2 linked regions of the Homo sapiens genome follow. The protein of the gene in region 1 purifies or fractionates together with the protein of each later gene. This does not show direct contact. Each region holds a gene or a part of one and is shown in the gene's direction. Other genes may lie near its edges.

Region 1 (8,105 bases):
GAGGTTGATCAGTGGCCACAAGCTCCTGAAGGCCTTGCCTTGCCACCGGCATCCTGCTGCCCCTGCCACCTGCCTCTAGCCTCTCCAGAGGCGGACCACAGCTGCCCAGGCCCTCTTGGCCCCCAGCAGGCCACCCTGTGAGCTTTGGGAAACATGGCTGCATCTGGGTCAGGCCTCCTCCTCAAGTGAGGTTACCACCTCAGTTAGGCCTGGCCAGGGCTCCCAGGGTACCATGCTGGAAAAGCGAGCCCTTTTGGAAGTTTCTACCCTCCTGTCCTGGTGCACTAAGACTATGCCTTCTCTGAGGTTTGTGGGACATCCTTGGGGAGCCCAGGCTGGAAACAGGAGAGCTGGTCCTCACTCCACTCCATGGCAATGGCTTGACCTTGGGAACATCTTTAACTTTTGTGGAAGGGCCTCGGGTTCCTCACCACAAAAGGGAAGGTGAGAGGCCTCCGCCCAGTGTGCAGGAGAAGTGGGAGGAGAGGGTTAGGCTGGAGCCAACTCTGCCTCCTGAGTGGGACATAATCTACCCCTGGAGCACCAGGGTCTCTGTGAAAGGGGGTTTGTCTTTCAAGCAGGACTTCTGTGAGCTTTGAAGGAGGTAAAGGTTGTGAAGGTGGCTATGTGAACTGTGTGACTGTCATCCCTTCTCCTACGTCCCCAGCTTGGGAGCCCTGTGCAAACTTATACAGCTATTTCTGGCCCCCATCTTCCCACAGGTTCCCAGGGCAGCAGGAGTCCTGGGGAATGGGGGACGTTTCCTCATTAGGTGGCCAAAACATTTTGGGGGTAAGGCTCCAGGCCTAGGTAGGCAATGGGGCCTCTCAGAGCAGATGGGCCTTCACAACGTGGGCAGCCTCAGTGGAAATCCAACATGGGCCATGAGACCAGGGTAGGGGCTCTAACCTGCCACGTGCCACAACTCTGCCATTGCTGGGCCCTTCACTGTGGCTCCTTTGGCCATGGAGCAGGGAATGGGGCCTGGGGACTATGTAAAGCCTAGTCCCTTTCTTAAATCCTTCTGTTCAACCCCCAGATTCTGCCTTCCCCTCTCTGACTTCTTAACACAAAATGATTTTTATTGTACCCATTGAAAATGTCAGTATGTACTCTCTCACATAACTTAGAAGTATTTCCTTTTTTTCTTTTTTTTCTTTTTGAGATGGAGTCTTGCTCTGTCACCCAGGCTGGAGTGTGGTGGTGTGATCTTGGCTCACTGCAACCTCCAGCTTCCAGGTTTAAGCGATTCTTCTGGCTCAGCCTCCCTAGGAGCTGAGATTACAGGCTCCCGCCACCATGCCTGGCTAAATTTTGTATTTTTAGTAGAGACAGGGTTTCGCCATGTTGGCCAGGCTGCTCTTGAACTCCTGGCTTCAGGTGATCCACCTGCCTCAGCCTCCCAAAGTGCTTGGAATTACAAGCATGAGTCACCACGCCTGGCCCCTTAGAAGTATTTCTGAAGAAGAAAAAAACAGTTTAATCTCTCCACCACGTGTATAGTGTTTTAAATTTTTACTTTTTTTGTGAAAATTTTTAAACAAGCAGAGACAACATTATAATGAACGTGCAAATACCCAATTCCGAGGTTTGACAATTGTTAACATCTAACAATTAATATATGCTTCATTTGCTTTTGGGCTGAAGTATTTTAAAGTAAATTATAAACCTCCTGACCTTTTACCCCAAATCATTTCAGAATGCATCTCTAAAACCAAAGGACACTCTTCTATATAACTATGATACTGTCATTACACACCTAACAAAATTGACAGGAATTGCTTAATATCTAATATTCAAATATCCCCAGCCGGAATGTAATGAAGTGCCACAGGATGAGTGGTGATATTATCCAGGGCTTGGTCTTCTCGCAGGAGTTTCATGTCTGTGTCTGACGGGACTGTCCAGCGAGCTGGCAGGGAGAAAGCAGGGTGCCTTGGCAGTGAGCCTCAGGCTAGCCTCCACTGGGAGGACCCAGTCTTTTCGTGCAGCCCCTCTCATGCGGCCCATTATCTCTCAGGAAGTGCCTCCTACTACCTAACTTCAAAACAAGTTCTTCCTGCACAGCAGGTCACCAGAGGAGGGGGAAGAGGCCACCAACCAATCTCCATGTACTAAGGACTCATAGCCTTGTGGCTGCCTGTGCTGGAGTCCAGCCCTCTGCAGGTGGCTCCAACACCAACGTCACCCACAGGCACTGTGTTTATAAGCTGAGTCCTGCAAACTCCAGTTCCCTAGGTGTGGCCAGGATCGTGAACAAGCAGCAGAGGATTTAAACTAAATGCTTAGCCTGTGTTCCTCTGCAAATAAAGGCTTCATGCCCCCAAAAGAAACCTTCCAAGAAGAACCCTTAGATGGGAACAAGCTAAGTGTCTGTGCTTGGGTTCTGCTAATTATGAGAGCCCTTGTCCTGATATCACTCTGAGATGTGGAAAGTTCTTCTTACCCAAAGCACAATCCTGTATCCTTATGTCTCCCCCTCTTCCTCCCCATCCCCATCAACACTCACACAGCAGTTCTCATTCTCTTCTTCTACCAGAGCTCAGCCTTCCCCAAGAGGAAGTGAGGCTGGCAAAAAAAAAAAAAAAAAAGAATTTGCAGCGGGGAGGCTTTGGGCTGTTGGCTAAGGGATGTAAAAATACAAGGAAGAGAAATCAGTACGGGGCGAAGGTAACTGGCAGACTTGAGACCTCTGGTGGGTACGGCTGGCACTTGTCAGTGGGTAGGACCTTCAGCCTACCTGGGGTTATGCAAGGCACTACGGCTGTGGCTAGGCTTGGATGTGGACAGCAGGGGCAGCCTGGCATGAGGACTGGACTAGAGCTTTGGCAGTCGCTGCTAACCCCCCTGGTGCCTGGCTGGTGTCTTTTACATGTGACCCTCAACCCCAATTCTAGAAGTAGGTGGTATTGTTATTGTCCCCATTTTATAGATGAAGTTGAGTAAATTGCCCAAGTCATCCAGCCAGGAAGCAGCAGACAGTCTCATTCTGGAACCTGTGGTCTGAACTAGGCTCTGCCACCTCGTGAAGAGGGGCTACTACTTCCAGGGTGGGCGACGGCGTGTCACATGCTGCGCTGGGACTTTAGATATTTTTAAAATTAGTAAAATATAGAAATCTGAATTGACAGCTCAGTGAATTGTCACATATGTGTACACCTGTGTCACCACTGCCCAGGTCAAACTATTATACATTCCCATCACCCTAGCAGGCTGCCCTGCAATGAGGGGAAGTCTTATTTTGATTTCCTTTAGTGCTCTCTGCAAAGCTGGGAGCATGTTTCTCCTTTCTTTTGTGACTCCTGGATCCCATGATCCAACTTATGTCCTTTACCCACTCCTTTTCTGCCCTTCCTCCTCCCACCTTTTCTCTCCTCTCTCCCCTCTTGCCTCCCAACTACAAGGGCTGCACGTTCTCGCCCACTCACGTGCAAAAGCCAGCAAGGATGGGAAGGTGAGCTGCTGTCCTGTGTGCCTGTGATCACACTGCTTTCTCTCTGGCTCCTCCATTCCCCCTGTGTCTCTTTTTTACCCCATGATTTCAGCAGGGGGCTGGCAGAGTAGAGTAAATAAGTCGTGAGATATGAGATGGTTTCTGTAAAGGGCTAGGGTCATGTGGGAGAGGGTAAATGAAACCACTCCTGAGCCCCCTGTCCTCTACTCCCCATTCCCCTGCCTCCATTAACAGTTGCAGGCTGGAAAAAAATAAAATAGCCCTCTTGACAAACCTCAGAAGCACAAATCATCCATGGAGGCTCTGCATGCTTGGCAATTTGCAGACAGTTCTTTCTCCTGCCTCACCTTATCCAGCCTGCTGCATTCTGTGCTCCTCTCAGAGACCAGCTTCTCCTCGGAGGGACTCATGCTTCCTGCTGTGCTACTTGGCTCCTCCTGCCCTAGTTCTCTGGCCCCAGATGATGAGGCTGGGGCTTCTGATTCGAGGCAGTAGCTGTGGTCTCAGGCTTCCCTTGAGGGGATTGAACATGGCCTACGAACCTGAGCATGGCCCACCCTGTCTTTCAGAGCCCCTTGCATCTAACAGCTACAACTCCCAGCATCTTCACCCATACCCCCATCACCACACCTAGCCTTTGCTCCAGATCTCAGAGAACCCCACATGGACAGGAAAAAGCAGGGCTTTCTCTCTAGCCCCTCACCAATTCCTATGCTTGACTGAGCTCCAAAAAGTAAGCTTAAAGGCAGCCTGACCCTGCCGTTGAGCTGAGGCTAGAGAGTTTTGGTCCAGGCTGGGCTCTCAGCACCTTCTTTGGGGCAGGAGTTCCTAAGCCCAGAAGGGACCCAGGCTGAAGAAGACTGAAGAAGTCCACAGCATCTTCTCCATCCTGGTCTTCTTCTGTCCTCTGCCATGGGGCTAGCGGGATGTGGGAGGTGAATGACAGGGAGTTGGCAGGAGAATCCTGAGTCTAGTTGGAGACAGGGACTAACCAAGTCTTGTTCATTCCACCTGCCCCCTCCTCTCTGTGCCCTCTCTTTATACCCACTGTCCTGCCCAGGCTTCATCAGTTCCTGCCTGGACTGGTGCAGTAGCTTTCAGCCCCACCACCTGCAACCTGAGGGATCTTTGTAAAATGTGTATCCCCCATCCTCAGTCTCCTGCTTCAAGTCTCTGTTGGCCCCCATGGCCTAGGAGTGAAAGCTCACACTTGAAAACTGGCATTCCAGGCCCTTCCCAATCCTACCCCAGTCTACATCTCTCAACTTGTCTCCTGATGCCCCCAGAACTCCTTGCTGCAGCTACACCAGGCTTCTCACAGCCTTGCATGTATTAGGCATTTTCATGCCTCCATGCCTGTGCACACGCTGCTCTACTTTCTGGGGTGCTCTTACTCCACTTCTAATTGTCTAACTTGCACATCCTCCATGACCTACCTCTACAGAATGAGTACAGCATACCCATTCTGTAGGAAGCCCAGACTCCAGCTATATCCCACCCTGGAACACTTCCCTGACATCAGTAGACTTGGCTATATTCAGCCAGGGAATTTTTCAACTCTCTCTGTGTTCCTGAAGTCCAGAGGGATAATGAGGATGTTTAGAATAGGGAAATAAATAAGTGGGAGAGGAAGTCCAAAGTCTGCCTGAATTCCTTAGTGATAAGGACTAGAGGGAGCTGCCCTGGCCCGGTCCCTCAAAGGGCAATGGTTGACCAGAGGGTCCAAGGCGAGGCTGTGTTGAAGGATTGATGCAGTCCAGACCAGCGGTCAGAGACTTAGGTCCCATCTGGGAATGCGCATTTGCTGGGTGACCTCAGGTCCCTCTTTGGGTCTCCATTTCCTCTACCCCTCCCCAGATAGGGCTCAACACTAAACTAAATTGTGACAAAGAGAGAGCTCATCTTCCAGACCACACCCACTGTTTCATAAACACCACAGGCTTCGGTACCCACCCCTCCTTTCTCTCCAAACTGCCTCTAAGGAAGGGCTGTGTGTCTGTGCTGCTGAGGGGGCAGAGTTGGCTGGAGAAGTTGACCCAACACTCTTCTACCCTCAGAGAGTCGCAAGCAGAAGCTGCCAGAAATCCTAGGCGCCCATGGTGATTGGGAAACAAATATTTCTTGGCAAACTATATGGCCACAGTCCTGGCTTAAGAAGGCCCAGAAAGTGAGGGCGTCCATTATCTTGTCCTCAGAGGGCAAGGCTGGACACTTTTGTTTACAGCGACCAACAGAAAACTCAACTGATCCAAGCCATAAAGGAAAGGCATCAGCTCATGTTGCTAGCAGTAGAGCTGGTTTCAGGCATGGCTGCATTCACAGACCCAGACAATATTAAGAGAACCTGATTTTTCTCCATCTCTCTATTCTGCCTTCAGCTGTATAGTTTTTATCCGTGTGTTCCACTTGTCAACAAGAAGACAGCAGAAGCTTGAGCCCTTGCTTCCTTTAAGGTTTCCAGTCCAGTGGGGAAAAACCAAATTCACTTTCTTAATCACTTAATCCAAAGTCCCAGGAGTGAGCCTCCTGGCTCTGAGTAGCCTGACTCAGGCCATGTGTCAGGCACTGTGGCCAGGAATGCTCTGATGGACTTAAGCCTTGGTCACATGTCAATCCCCTGGAAGAGGGTTCATCAGAACTCCATGAACTAGAGGTAGGGAAGGAGGTTGTTTCCCAGACACAGATGAGGACATGGCACCAGAAGAGAGTAAAGGATGGTGGAAGGCAGAAACAAGAGATATCTGCTACCATCCATCCTGTTTTGACGTTACAGTGTTATGAGAGATAAGAATGGACAGGAGAATCAGGAGACGCTGGGAAGGGGCCAGAAAGCAGAAAGAACCCTGTTGCTGGTGGGAGATGGGGTTGGGATGGTACCTTGGTGAGAAATGTGCTCCAAGACAGGCAAGACAGACCAATGATGGGACACAAGGCAGGGTAGCCAGTACCCAGATTCCTCTTCCAGAAGCCACCTCTGAGATCTTCCTGGCCACTATTCCCCCTATACTTGAGGATGAAACAGCCACAAATCCCTTGAGACAGAGTGTCTTGAGCATTTCAGCCTGAGTAACCCTTATGGGAAGGAGAGAAAGCACATGACCCCAAAGAGGAACCACAGACAGTTTCCTTGAAGTCTCCTATCTTTTAACAGTTATACGAGTAACTGTATCATGCTCCATCACACAACTGTGTTACTTTCAATAAGTTTTAAATGACTTACCAGCTAATGTCTTTACCCCCATTGGCTGGTAAAGGTGCAAGATGGAGCTCGTGCTCACTGTGGCTTCCAGGGCAACAGCACTTAGGCAGGTGAGGTCTGGATGCTGGGGAAATCTAAAGGAGTCCTGGAGAGGGAGGCCTTCCCTGGACCTGGACGAGGTCAACCATGGTGCTAGCTGCTTCTGGGAGTGTTGGCCTGCAGGTGACCTGTGAGACAGAGGCTCCACCAGAGAGCCCTCAACAGGAATGAGAGAGCTGTTTGGGGTGGAAAGGACTTGGCTGTGCAGCTTCTTAGGCACTGAGTTGTTCAGCTTCAGCTTGGACCCCTCTCCCTCCGCAGCAATGGATTGCTGGCTGCCAGCTGGGATGCACATCCCAGTAAATGGAGCTGATTTACTTAAAACAATGGTCAAAGTACTAAGCACTTTGGTGCCTGCAGGCCAGGAGGGACCCCCTTAAAGGAAGGTCCCCCACCTATGTTCTTCCCACGGACCCACTTCAAGAATCTCTAAGTCGGCAGGGGAGGTGGTTGAGGCCCACGTAGCCTACAGAGAAACTGAGGCCCAGGGAGGTAAGGACCCTGTCCCAGGGTGGGAGGGACAAGCTGGAGGAGACACTGAGAATGTCTGATTCTGGAGTGGTCTTGCTGGACTCTCTTCTATGGCCCTGGTGGAAACTGACATTCTTCTCCCAGGCAGAGATGAGGAAACTGGTGTGGGGTTGCCGGGGCCAGCAACCACTTTTCTAAAGCCAAAGACGCAGAAGGTGCTGCCAGTCCAACGCTTCCTCCATGGAGGCCTTCACCCACCCACACCCATCTAAGAGTTCCCAAGACCTGTTTTTTCTGGCTATTCCTAGACAGCCATCACCCCCACTCACATGTCTTCCACAAGGTCAGTGACCCCAGTCACACTGGTCTGGCCCACCCCTGATCCCTGGCCAGGGTACAGGGAGGGGAAGAGGAGAAGCTTGGACTTTTCCATCCCTTCTCTTCACCTTCCAGAAGCAGGGGAGGCCTGGTGGGATCCTAGAGGGGCTCTCTTACTTCCTTAAACCTCCCCACCCTCAGTAGATCTGGTATAGCTTGAATTATTTAGAAACTAAAAAGGAGGCAGGTGAGGTCTGGGCAAGGAAGGCCAGAGTCCCCTCCCTAGCCTGGTGACCCAGGGGACTGAGCACAGAATCCTGGAATGACAGAAGCTGGAAAATACAGCTAGACTCCTGGATTCTTCCCAGGGCTGGCCCTGGGAACCAGAGGCCAGGATCCAACTCCACATAACAGAGTAGTAGCACGAGCTGGCCCCACTCATCAGGGAGATCAAGACAGGGACAGACTCTCAAACCAAGCTGGAGAGTGGCAGAGTCCAGAGGGCCAGCTCAGGCCTCTAAGGGGAGGCCCTCTTGCCGCCATCTGGAGTTGTGCCACCCGCAA
Region 2 (8,105 bases), on another chromosome or scaffold:
GTGTAGACCTCTCAGTATGTTAGCCTACAGCAAGGCAACTGGCCGGCAAATGGAAGAGCAAGAGGGGCTACTCAACACACATCGTAGTTATGTTGTAAGCTGATCTCTCAAAAGTGACATAACTCTCACTTTTGTTGTATTCTGTGAGGGGAGGGGATTACACAAGGGCATGAATAGCAGGAAGCAGGCATGATTGGGGTCATTTTAGAGGATGCCTACTATATTTCTCAGACATATCTCTGTGGATTTTTCTTTGGCACGTGCGCATGCACGCGTGTGTGTCTGTGTGTCTGTGTGAATGGACATAGGTTCTCTAAAACTGACTATGCTGGTTAGTATTCCCATCAGCAGAGCATGAGGGTTTTTATATCACCACATGCCTGGCAACACATTACATTCTCTAGGGCATAGGGGCATATCACCTTGTTTCAGATTGCCTGTTTATATCTTTTGATTTTTTTTTTCTAGCAGAGTTCCTGCCTTTTTATTGGTTGTTGGCAGGAGTTATTTGTAATAGCCTTGATATTAGTTTCGTGTTCTTCTTTCAGTCTATTATCTGCCTGTTAACTTTGTCCAGGGATTCATTTGCTGAGCAGTAATCTTTAATTCTGATGTAATTTAATGTGTAATTTTTGCCTTTGTGGTTTGTGTTCTTAGGCTTTTATTTAATAAGTCCTTTCTTGTGCTTATGTTACAAACTTATTGTACTCTTCCTTCTATCAACTTTAGTTTTATTCACATCTAAGTCATTAAGTCTTCTGTAGTAGGTCTTGAGTATGTTGTAAGGTGTAGGGATCTGTCATTATGAAATAAAAGAGGTGTTTCCCATTACCATCTTCTGTACAATGTGTTTTTCTTCATTGATTTGTGGAGTAATCGTAATCTTTATTGTATATTATTTCCATATATACACAGGTCTGTCTTTGAATTATCAATTGGGGTCCTTTGGTTTGTTTACTTTTTATACAAATACCATGCTGTTTTTCTTACTACAGCTGTATAGAGTGGCTTGATATCCAGTAGGGAAAGTGCCCCTCTTCATTCTTTATTGTCAAGGTTGACTTGGCTATTTGTTTATTATTTCATAAAAGTGAGTCAATTTATGCAGTTCCTCAAAAAAGTCGAGTGAGAATTTTGGTTGTGATTCGTTGACTTTCTGTATTAATCTGGGTAGAATTATTATCTTCATAGTATTGTCATTCTGTTCAGATCATCCACTGTGTCCTTTTTAAATGTTTTTCTTCATAGATGTCCTATGAAGGACCAAAACATTTTATTCCAAACATTTTAGTTATTCTGGCAGTCTTGCAAAATGCTGTTTTGTTTTTGATAACCTACTATTGTTGGTTAGTGCTGCTAAGGAGAAATGCTATTTATCTTTCAAAGTTGATCTTGTATCTGGCCTAGTTGGATTTTTAAATTTATTTGAATAGTTTCTTGATTTTTTAATAACTGTTTTAATCTAACTTCTCCAATATATACATACTTTTTCCATTTTATTAATTTCTCAACTCCCAGTTCGAGTCCCTTTGCTCCCACCCCTTTCCCCCACCTTCTTTTAATCTGTTTGATCGATATTGAATTTCTTATTTTCCTTCAAAACTACCAGACCTTTTTGTGGCTGCCTTTGTATGGTTTCTTCACTTTAATGCCCTTCCCCTTCTTCTTGTTCTTCGTCTGCTCAAATATCATCATCTTTGTGAAGAATTTCCCTTCTGACCCAGGCAGAATTGGTTGCTGTTATCTCTGTGTTCCTAATACAGATAGTTCATATTCTTTCATGGGATTTGCCGGATTTCATAGTAATTTCTTTTTCTATGTTTGATTATTCCGCTGACTCTTCACTAGGACTCCTCTCTTTCTTCTCTCCTTTTTGCTCCTTCCCCCTCAATCTCTTGTCACTGCTGTGATGTTCTCAATCTCTTGTCACTGCTGTGATTGGCTATGTTCTCAGGCAGGATCCATCGACAGAGAAAACCAGTAGCAGCTCTATCCATACATAGTTCTTAGCACTCACAATCTCAGAAGGAGAGAGTGCCTCTTTTCTGATAGTTCCAGAAGTGCTGGGAAGGATTTTGACAAAGACCATTTTTATTGGCCAAACGTGGATCACCAGAAGGCAGAGTCGTGCCCCATCCAATCCACATGTATGGAGGGGAGGGAGGTTCTCAGGAGGACAAAAGGGCTGCTTTTGCCAGAAGAACAGGAGGTGGATGTTGGTCAGGCAAAATCAACAGAGGACAGCTGTAAGCCAGTCAACAACATTCTGGATCCTTCTTTCATGAAATTCCCTTTACATTTTTGTTGCAATGAGTATTCCATTTGTGCTTATGAATACATATTACCTGACCTCAGCATTCTTCTTCCTCTTTGCTATCCTAAGTTATATATGCCTTGTACGCTTTGCTGATGGATCTATTAAGGAAGGTATTCAATAAGTTTCCAGTCAAAATGAAAACAGTAAAGATCCCTCCATCTTTCCATTTATTTATCCATTGAGTACCTATTATATACTAGAGTTGAGAATATAAACAACAGCAAAAATGAAAGGTTCTCTAGCTAGAGTCTCATATATTATAGTAAGAAAGATTTGTAAGTAATTGCCACTCATACTCCAGGTTTTAAATGCCACTTTTTAAGAGACGCTTTCTTTTGATCCCATAGTTACTATCAGAGTGTCCTGTAATCCTCTCCTGTTATTACTTGTTTTTTTCCTTTATAGTCCTTTTTGGAGTGATTATTATTTGATTTTTCTTTTTTCCACTAAATTGTAAGCTTCATAAAGGCAGGAGCCTTGTCTATTTGTTGATGGATATGTCCCCAATATGTAGCATAATGCCTGTCTAGAGATAGTAAGAATAAATTTTTAATCAATATTTGTTGAACATCATATGAGCAAAAATACTGTGTGATAAGCAATTTGATATAATTTGTTTCTCTGGGCCTACGGAAGACACACATGGTTCTGTTTAGGAATTTGGGGAAATGGGTTTTTAGCTTGCAGTGACTCTTATTGTCATGTTGTATTGCTTCAGTATTCTTATGTGCTGGAAGCTTTCCTTACCTCCCAGCATCAAACCCTCTACTCTTCATTCTTCTACATTTATAGGATTCCACGGTAAGAGAGGATGATCCAAGGTTAACACTTTTTTTGTTCTCTCACTTCTGATTGTGTTTGGCCCAATTAATTTTGAAGGAGAAGAACACTTTTTTCTAAATACGTATTCTTTCCCTAAGGTTATTAGACCTAGTAATTATTAATAGTCATAGATTTTGGTTTAAGCAAAACTAAAACAATTTAGTAAAACAATTTGTTTCTAGATCTGAGGCATACAGTAAGATGTTAAATTGTAAACCACCACAGCTGATTCTTTATTATTGATGCAATGACAAAATACATTTGCAGTCTGGCACGATGGCTCATGCCTGTAATCCCAGCAGTTTGGGAGCCCCAGGCAGGCAGATCACTTGAGCACAGGAGTTCCAGATCAGCCTGGGCAACATGGTAAAACCCCCTCTTTGTAAAAAAGACAAAAATTAGCTGGGCATGATGGCGTCTGCCTGTAGTCCCAGCTACTTGAGAGGCTAAGGCAGGAGGATCACTTGAGCCTGGGAGGTGGAGGTTGCAGTGAGCCAAGATCGCGCCACTAGGTGTCAGCCTAGGTGACAGACACAGACCCTGTCTCCAAAAAGAAAAAAAAAAAAGACAGAAAACGTTTGCAAATGTATTGGACATAGTCATCCATCTGCCTATCTAAATAGGCTCTAACTCACAGCCAAGTATTTGTTATGTCAGGATTTGGCTTTAAACTCTGACCCAGGTGAAAAGCCTAGCCAGGAGACTATTGTGTATGGATTCCAGACAGGCGTGGGCTATGTTTTGAATGAATGATTATTGTGATACAAAATTTTTGGGGGTTCTGAGCACCCAAATCAAATCATCATTAGTAAATCATAACATGACATGAAACATCAAGTTTGTCTTTCATTCAATTCATGAAAGAAGAACAAATACAAGAATTGCTTTATTTTATTTTTTAAATTTTTTATTTTTATTTTTTGAGACAAGAGTCTCACTCTGTTGCCCAGGCTGGAGTGCAGTGGTGTAATCTCAGCTCACTGCAACCTCCACCTTCTGGGTTCTAGTGCCTCAGCCTCCTGAGTAGCTGGGATTACAGGCATGTGCCACTATGCCCAAGAATTGCTTTTTACAGGTTAATTTTTACAACAGTGATTATGGAAATTTCAGGAAAGAGATTGTTCTACAATACTTTAAAAGTCAGATTTCTGAGTAGAGCTGAGCTTTATTCAACCACGTAATAAGGCTAATTGCGTGGGTCTCTTGTGTTTTTCTTTTTTTATATGTCATTTTTAAATATATTTCTTTTTCTTTCTTTATTTTTTGTTTTTGAGATGGAGTTTCGCTCTTATCGCCAAGGCTGGAGTGCAATGGCACGATCTTGGCTCACTGCAACTTCCGCCTCCCAGGTTCAAGCCATTCTCCTGCCTCAGCCTCCCTAGTAGCTGGCATTACAGGTGCCCGCCACCATGCCCAGCTAATTTTTTGTATTTTTAGCAGAGATGGGGTTTTACCATGTTGGCCAGGCTGGTCTCAAACTCCTGACCTCAGGTGATCCACCCGCTTTGGCCTCCCAAAGTGCTGGGATTACAGGCGTGAGCCACTGAGCCTGGCCTTTTAAACATATTTCTATCAGTAATAACTCCTTAAGATATCTGGTAGAATTTAAATTTTTCTAGTTCTAGAATCAAGTCATCATTAATTTGTTTAATGAGCTTTCATTTAAGTAGGTGTTAAGTATTTTTCTTTGTTTTTCATAATTATTTCATTTTTATAAAAATATTTTAGTATTCTTTTGGTGCTATTGCTCTTTTTACTGCGTTGTTGAGGTTTCTACTTCCTTGGTCTTAACATGTTCCCCATTATAATCCTGTTTAAACTTTTGCAGTAACTGGAAATTTCTGGATGCCTTTATTCCTCTGTGTGCTTTCTGTTCAGCTGAATCTTTTTCTTTTTATTTGATCTAAGACTTGTTTCCCAAAGGGGTTTATGATCTTGAGAGGACAGAGTAACCCTTCATAATCAAAATATGCTTAATAAAACAGGAATAACTTGTTTACTGTTAATATTTTGCTGAACATGCAAAGTTGACCTTGAGAAAGGTAGGCACTAGAGACACAAGATCTAGGGTGTATTATTGTTCTGATTGTAAAGTGATCATCAACATGAAAAGGCATTGTTTTCTTCCCTACACTGTACCTTCTCTTCAGCTTTACAATCTGAGTATTTGTCTCTGTATTATCACTAAACAGAAATGAACATAGATGTCTAGAGTGAATCTTCAAAACAGAACACTGCTAGTAACTATTTCCATTATACATAAATAGACTTGTCATTTAATAGGAGATGGAAACTGGAAAATAGGGAAATAAAGGGATAACTAACCCAAATACACCAGCTAATGACAGGGAAGGAGTTTAATATTTTTGCTTGACTTAATTTTTGTATTAAACGTATTAACATTTTTCAGTAACCTGAAAATACTGAATATTTAGATTTGAGTTTTTAAATGTATAGTTCATTTAGAAAAGAATAGTGTCTTAATCTTCCAAAGTGACTGTTACTCTGTTTTTCTTCCATTTTAGAGATATTACATATGAAATATCAGTAGAAGCTATATCAACAATGGTTGTTTTCCTTTCCTGCCAACTCTTCCACAAAGAAGTTTTGCGACAGAGCATCAGCCACAAGTATTTGATGCGAGGTCCATGGTATGTTTCTACTTTAAGTATGTCTAGTTTTTTCATTGTATAAATCTATATTTCTAGTCTTGTCCTTTTACCTGAGTATCGTCCCATATCTCCAACCAGGTATTTCCTCTAGTTGTTCTATTGTCTCTTTAAACCCAGTGCATAGGGAACCGCATTCTACTTTCCTGTGCCATCTACCCATCCTCCCTGTTCTTCCTGTCCCGTAGCTTCATTACCTTCTCCAGTGGTTGCTTCGTAGAATTGAAACTTTGAAATCATCTTTTTCTTCCATCTCCTTCATTCTGTCTATGTTTAAGCAGTCAAGTCATATTTGTTATTCAGATTATTTTTGTATCTTCCTCTTCTCAGCAGTCCCTTTGAAACACCTGTGATCTATGCCCCCTTACTCTCTTTGGACTTCTCCAGCAGCCTCTTCGCTGACTATTCCTACTTCTTTGAGCCTGCAAATATTTGCTGTGTGCTATCCATGTGCCAGGCATGTTAGACTGTGGGGCTATGCTCTTGAGCAGAAGCTTACGATCTCCTAGAGGGTGTGGATGCAAATGACCAACACATATGCACATACCTGACCTTTTATTAACATAATCTTCACAAAACTTTAAAAATGTAAAACAAATCCAAATAAAGTACCTTTGAGGAAAGTTCTCAGATAGTGGGGAGCTTTGTCTTCTTCATATTCTTTTTGCTACCCTGATTATTCCTGTGGCATGTATGTTCTTTGAACATATTTGAAAATCACTGAGGGAAAGGATCTGGGCTTTGGAGTCAGAGGTTTGCATTGGAACCCTCTCTGACAGAGACACTCAGAATGACACTCAGAATGACCGTGGTTTGAAGTAGTGCTGGCATCGTGGGACTGTGTGCATCTTTGCTGAAACAAGATTGTGAACTTCATCCCTTATAGTGCCAGAGTATTCAAGTTGCTTTTTAAAAATAGACATAGAGGGTGTTAGTGTTCTTATTTTCTAAGTAAGGTTTTTATAGTATCATTATGGTGCCACATATTTAAACCGTAATATGTTCTTTACTTATTTTTGGGGTTCATCTTGGAAACCATATTTAAAAAGCTCAATAGTACATTAAAGAATCTGTTAAAAAGTTTACTCTATATTGCAGGAATTAGTTTAATACCAATTGAATAATTGAATAATTTCATACTTAAAAAGTGTAGTCCTATTGTTATTTTTAAATTCTTGCTTTTTTCTACTGATTCTTTATTACTACTTCCCTTCAATTGCCAGATAATGTGTTATGCACTAAATTTATAATAGCTCACAGTGTTATACCGAATGTAGATAAAGTAACTGGAGTTCAAGAGTTCAAGTGGGCTGGGCACGGTGGCTCACGCCTGTAATCTCAGCACTTTGGGAGGCTGAAGCGGGAGGATCGCTTGAGTTTAGGAGTTTGAGACCAGCCTGGGCAACATAGTGAGACCTTGTCTCTACCAGACCTTGTTTCTCCCCACTGCAGAAAAAAAGTATTTAAGTAATTTGATCAATATCTTATGATGTGATAAGAGGAAAAGCAAGGATTAAGCCTCAAAATTGCTCTCAAAGCCCATGGTCTTCACTGTTGTGTGCAGTGCTCAATTTCTGTGAGTTGTGCCAATAGCCCTTTTGTATTAACAGATAGTGTTAATGGCAGAATTATTTCTGTATTGTTATTCAGAATTAGATGACTCCCATAAATATGAGTTTGATTTTTTTTTCCTTTTTGTATAGTCTTCCATACACCAGCAAACTTGTGAAGACCTTATTATATAACTTTATCAGACAAGAAAAGCCACCTCCTCCAGGGGCCCATGTTTTCCCTCAGCAGTCGGATGGGGGAGGACTGCTTTATGGACTTGCATCAGGAGTAGCAAGTAAGTTTTATCAGATTTTTTCAATTCTTTGGTGCACATAAATTTTATCTATTTAGGCATAAGAAATTCTGTTTGCTTGGCTGCCACCATTAATAGTTACATTGAATTTGTGCAGCTGGTTCAATGTGAAAACAAAGTAATTAAAATATTAATCTTTCTGTTTTGTGCGGTGATTTATGTAAAATGTATGCAAATAATGAATGGATTACCTACAAAACATCGTTTTTCAGGAAGAATGTTTACACATAAATATGCGTATTGCATGAATTGTAGCTGTATAGTAAAAATAAAATTAAGCATTTGAAAACTTATAACACTACTTGTATTATAAGAGGAAATCTATTTTAGGTTATTTTAGGGTATATTTTGGTTAGGATTTCATGTGACTAATTAGGTGCAGTTTTCCTATTACACTAAGTGCTTTCTTCAGTGACAACTGAATATTTTGCAG

What was found. The genes of interacting proteins can lie anywhere in the genome.
Region 2: the proteins of VIPR1 (region 1) and DYM purify together in Homo sapiens (co-immunoprecipitation; 3 studies listed by BioGRID and IntAct, with this or other methods). This does not show direct contact.

The regions. Positions count from the first base shown.
Region 1 is NC_000003.12:42,505,384-42,513,488, forward strand, and holds part of VIPR1 (vasoactive intestinal polypeptide receptor 1 isoform 1 precursor), read left to right. Parts: intron 1-7,367; exon of another isoform or gene 7,368-7,566; intron 7,567-8,105. UniProt on the Homo sapiens protein: G protein-coupled receptor activated by the neuropeptides vasoactive intestinal peptide (VIP) and pituitary adenylate cyclase-activating polypeptide (ADCYAP1/PACAP).
Region 2 is NC_000018.10:49,331,413-49,339,517, reverse strand, and holds part of DYM (dymeclin), read left to right. Parts: intron 1-5,664; coding exon 5,665-5,790; intron 5,791-7,511; coding exon 7,512-7,654; intron 7,655-8,105. UniProt on the Homo sapiens protein: Necessary for correct organization of Golgi apparatus. Involved in bone development.